Linked DNA regions of Homo sapiens: region 2 is linked to region 1. A link means that fine-mapping ties the variant in region 1 to the expression of a gene that starts in the linked region. Tissue or cell type: whole blood. Region 1 holds a variant in brackets; the other region holds the start of a gene. All regions are shown on one strand. Distances are between the middles of the regions.

Region 1 (2,686 bases):
CAGGCTGGTCTTGAACTCCTGACCTCAGGTGATCCACCCACCTCAGCCTTTCAAAGTGCTGGGATTACAGGCGTGAGCCACCACGCCCGGCCCCACATACTTTTAAACGACCAGATCTCATGAGAACACACTCACTATCGTGAGTACAATACCAAAGAGAATAGTGCTAAACAATTCATGGGAAACCTGCCCTCATGATCCAACTGCCTCCCATCAGGCCCCAGTTCCAACACTGGGGATTACAATTCAACACACAATTGGGCGGAGATACAGATCCAAACTCTATCACCAGCCCTCCTGCTTTCACCTCCCCCGTTTTAGACAACCAGCGTTTGAATTGCCTCTTCCACTTCTGTGCCAAATTATGACTCTGAAGTGGATGCCTGTCTGCCCATTGTTGGACATTATGGGCTGTATAGAGTGCTCCTTTTTCTGAAGCAATGACGTTGGCCATCAAGATTAATGCAGTATCTCCTGTTCTGTTTTTTTTTTCCCCTTTTTCTTTTCTTTTTTTTCTTTTCTTTTTTTTTTTTTGAGACAGAGTCTCCCTCTGTCTCCCAGGCTGGAGTGCAATGGCACGATCTCGGCTCACTGCAACCTCCGCCTCCTGGGTTCAGGTGATTCTTCTGCCTCAGCCTCCCGAGTAGCTGGGATTGGCTAATTTTTTTGTATTTTTGTAGTGACGGGGTGTCACCATGTTTGCCAGGTTGGTCTTGAACCCCTGACCTCAGGTGATCTGCCCACCTCAGCCTCCCAAAGTGTTGGGATTACAGGCATGAGCCACCGTGCCTGGCCTTTTTTTTTTTTTTTAATGGCACTCTGAGTATTTGCATCTTCTACCATGCAAACAAAGCCCAGTCCAGAGACAGCGTCTATTCCTGTCAAGACCTAGATGTAGCCCCCCAGGGCTGCCAGCATCCATCTCACTTGCCAGTTATGCTAAGAGCTTTCCCACCAGGGAATGTGCCTCACAGCCATGGGCAGTCTCTTTTCTCTTGCTGGCAGACAGAACAGTTCTTTTTTTTTTCCTTTTTTTTTTTTTTTTGAGAGGTTGTTCCACTCTTGTTGCCCAGGCCGGAGTCCAATGGCGTCATCTCGGCTCACCGCAACCTCCACCTCCTGGGTACAAGCAATTCTCCTGCCTCAGCTGGGATTATAGGCATGCACCACCACGCCCCAGTAATTTTGTATTTTTAGTAGAGATGGGGTTTCTCCATGTTGGTCAGGCTGGTCTCGAACTCCCAACCTCAGGTGATCCATTCACCTCGGCCTCCCAAAGTGCTGGAACTACAGGCTTGAGCCACCACACCCAGTGACAGAATAGTTATTGGCATTTTGAGCCC[G/A]AGGGTCATGGCTAGATTTAGCCCATCTCTGCACTGCTGCAGAGCCACCTTGTTCACTCATTTCATGGACCCAGGTGACCACCTCACAGGAGCACACAGAAAAATCTCACTTGGTGACCCCAGCCACCTCCTGAGCCTGGAAGGGAGTTTTTCTGATGGGCATGAACCTGTTCTACTTCAAGACATCTTTCCCATCTCCACAGGGCTGTGCCCCATATGGATATCCCGTTAATAAGCCAGGTGGCTATTGCCCTCTTGCCTGAGTGTACAGCCAAGACACTGGTCACTGCCCAGGAGTCAGTCAAAACCCAAACACGGGGCTTCTACCACTGTTCGACTGATCAAATATATATTTCACAATATCACACTCCTGTAGAACACTTTGGAACACACACCATGATTCTTTGAAAATCAGTTATTGATATCATTCTAGTATAAATCAGCAGCAAGGAAAACAGCATGCAATTCAACTCACTGAGCAGACTGATTTTTATCATCTTTAGCCAGAGTAGCAGCCCTCCAAACAGGATGTTGTTTGTTCACCTCGAAATTATCATCCATAGACCAAACAACTGGGGGTGAGTGAGTTGAGAGCTGGTTATATAGGGCATTGTCGAACTGCTGATAGAATCCAGCAGCTCCTCACTGTTCCAGTCAGTCGTAGGAGAAAAGAGGTTCCCTCCTTGGGAATATCTCATCCCTGCATTCCCCACATAGCATGATGCTGTATAAACCATTTCTGTTTTATTATGTTTCTTTCTTTTTTTTTTTTTTTTTTTTTCTGAGATGGAGTCTTGCTCTTGTCGCCCAGGCTGGAGTGCAATGGTGCGATCTTGGCTCACTGCAACTTCTGCCTCCCAGGTTCAAGCTATTCTCCTCCCTCAGCCTCCCAAGTAGCTGGGATTACAGGCATCCACCACTATGCCTGGCTAATTTTTTGTATTTTTAGTAGAGACGGAGTTTCACCATGTTGGTCAGGCTGGTCTCAAACTCCTGATCTCAGGTGATCCACCCACCTCGGCCTCTCAAAGTGCTGGGATTACAGGTGTGAGCCACTGTGCCCAGCCTCATTAGAGTGTTTCTATGATGTCACTTGAGACAGCATGGGTATTTCAGGTGTCAAGATCATTTTATGGGCCGGGAGTTTTTGCTGGGAGACGGTGACAGGCTTTTTCCATATGCTGCATTAGAGGCTCCATAGAGGGGTTATTGAATGGAGAATATGTCCCTCCCAGCTCAGCAGCTTCCACTCTGCACTTTGTGGGCTGGGGACAATCTTACTGGCTCCCATCTCACGTCCCACTAATATTGCTTGAAGGACAAGTCAGATACAAAGTCCATTC
Region 2 (2,686 bases), 380 kb before region 1:
CCTTTCACCCCAACCCCGTTTCACACGCACTCCCACATCAACCCTGAGCATTCAAGCTTGCGTTTCCCTGTTAGGAACCTCGGTGGTGGCCGGAGCTCTGAGAAACCCCTAGGCAGAAATCCTTGCCTAGTTTGTGGCAGAAATCAGGGAAGGAAAGGCAAAGTTCAGGTCTTTCTCACAATAAATAAATAAAGATAGCTAGATTTGATTGATTGGTGGATGGATGAAACGTGGGAGTTTATGGGCAAATATTTATCAGACACTGGAAGTGTAAGTTGTCACAAAGATTATGGAGTGCACCTGTCTTATGACCCTGTTATTTTATCCCAGTATATGCACTAGAGCATTTTTTGTAACTGTGTAAATTGAAGGCTTATAAATTAGTTTAGTGAGAGAAAAGATAACGGATTGGAAGAGAATTACCATATTCATTAGTTGTGTTTTTAAAATTTTAAAGTAAAATAGAGACATGATTTTTTTCATGCTTTCGAATGCATTTATAAAAAATAGACTTGAGGGCTGGGCGCAGTGGCTCACGCCTGTAATCCCAGCACTTTGGGAGGCCGAGGAGGGCGGATCACGAGGTCAAGAGTTCGAGACCAGCCTGACCAACATGGTGAAACCCCGTCTCTACTAAAAATACAAAAATTAGGTGAGTGTGGTGGCGCGCACCTGTAATCCCAGCTACTCAGGAGGCTGAGGCAGGAGAATCGCTTGAACCCGGGAAGCGGAGGTTGCAGTGAGCCGAGATCGCACCATTGCTCTCCAGCCTGGGTGACAGAGTGAGACTCCGTCTCAAAAAAAAAAAAAAAAAAAAAGTTACTCATTAATAGCATAGACCAATTGGCCTCTATTGAAATTTCTCCATTATTTTCACAATGTGCCAGGCTGTGAAACCAGGATTTAATAAAGAACCAGAATGCCACATCTGTGTCACCTGGGTAGGGACCAGTCCTGATCCATTAAGTCCGGGTCTCTGGGTAACTGGACTCACTGCTGGGCAAAACAGAATGTCCGGCTTGGGTTCCTAACCGGGGACCGCAGAGCCTCATGGGAAATGTAGTGTCACCTTCCAATGATGTTACCATCAAGGACCTTGGGAACCAGCTTTTCTCTCTGCGCATGCGCCGCCCCGCCCACTCCGCCATTTTCCTCCGGAAGTGCGGCACCCAGAGGCGGTCTTGTAGCTGGGCCAGCCTGGGGCTTGGTTCTATGTCCCTGCGGGTCGGTGCGAGGGCGAAGAGGAACCCGTGGGCCCGGGGGATCCCGGGGGGCCGGACCAGTGTTCCCCAGTTGTGGGAGCAGACGCGTGGGCGCATCGCGGGCGGGCAGGGCCTGAAGTGCAGGTGCAGGCCGCGGACCCTGGCGGGGGCTGGGAGGACAGGCGTGGGGTCCCGGCAGTGAAGCGGGTTCTAGAGGCGCAGGAGCGGGTAGGCGAGGCCGGTGGCCCTGGGCCCGGAGTCTGCAGGCCGCGCTCCTGTCCTGCCGCTGAGGGAGCCGGTTACCAACCCGCATGACGCTCAGTTTGCCCATCTGTCCCAGTGCGAACACACAGTTCTCGGGAGACGTTCCCCATTCCCAGAGGAGTAGTGCGAAACGCGTGCGCCTCGAGTCTTAAACTGGGCGTTTGTATTAGTTGGGTTTCCCGGTGTCTCTTTAGCAAGTGAAGTTTCTGGTTCCCTCCTTCACTGTGTGACCTGCCTAGTCCTCCTGGGTTGCGTTTACAGAAGTTTATACGAGACCTAGTTTCCAGGGAAGAACTCACTGATGCCGCGAGGGAGATGGGGTACTGGATGATGGTCTTCAGCCTTAAGGGTACTTCAGTCTTAACCGTGTGTTATAAGGTTTGAAAGGGAGGGTTCCCTATGAATAAGAAGCGCACTTGAAAGAACAGCCCTCTGGTCTAACCTCCCACTGGTGCTTCAGAGGAGGATAAAAGGTCACAGGTGAAGATCCCAGTTTTCCTCGCTCGGGAAATATTAATTCTACTCCCTAGAATGCACAAGATTTGCAAAGACTAGGTGACAGTGGTAGGTTTGGACGAACTTTCAGAAGGTTGAGGTGAATTCGGCTGAGAAGAACAGGCAAGGACCTAGGAAATATTCCTTATTTGAAGGGGCCTGAAAGTGTGGTCTGGGGTACAGGAGTGACCTGTCATACCTGAGAAGATTAAAATACTCTCCAAACACAGTCCCATTCCTTCAACCTTTCCTCGTTGTTTCCAGCGTTTGAGATATATTAAACCTAGTCCATCACCAAATTTAGCTTTAGCATTAGATTGTGAAGTTCTATCGATTGTATTTGATTTGTAATTTAAGACTTTCTCCCCCTACGTAATTTTGTTAAAAACATATTGAATTCTGTTCACTTAGGTGTAACAGTTAATACTTGCTGTTTAAGGAACTAATTAAACCTTACTGGCTTATAAAAAACAACCACCATTTTATTTGTTTGAAGTTCTGTGGATCTGCATTTTGGTGTGGTGGGTTCAGCTGGGTAGTTGATATATTTATGTTGCCTGGATCACAAAAGAGGCCTTGGTCACATGGTGGGTTGACTGAGCCTGGTTGGTTTAAGATAGTTTCCTTCACAATCTGGCGGTTTGTGGTGACTCTTGGCTAGGCCCTGTGTCTCCACCAGGGTAGCTCCAGACCTCCTCACAATATGACTGTGTCCAAAAAGGCAA

The links. PIP is the estimated chance that this variant, and not a neighbour inherited with it, causes the effect.
Region 2: it holds the start of ZNF717, and the variant in region 1 is fine-mapped to the expression of ZNF717 in whole blood (TOPMed, PIP above 0.99).

The regions. Positions count from the first base shown.
Region 1 is chr3:75,408,516-75,411,201 of GRCh38, reverse strand. No RefSeq gene overlaps it. Among named protein-coding and RNA genes, the nearest start is that of LINC02018, 25 kb to the left of the region's middle. The variant G/A (reference allele first, on the strand shown) is at 1,344.
Region 2 is chr3:75,784,044-75,786,729 of GRCh38, reverse strand. ZNF717 (zinc finger protein 717) reads left to right here and starts at 1,181. Exons shown (of 5, transcript NM_001290208.3): 1 at 1,181-1,346. RefSeq lists an enhancer at 919-1,068.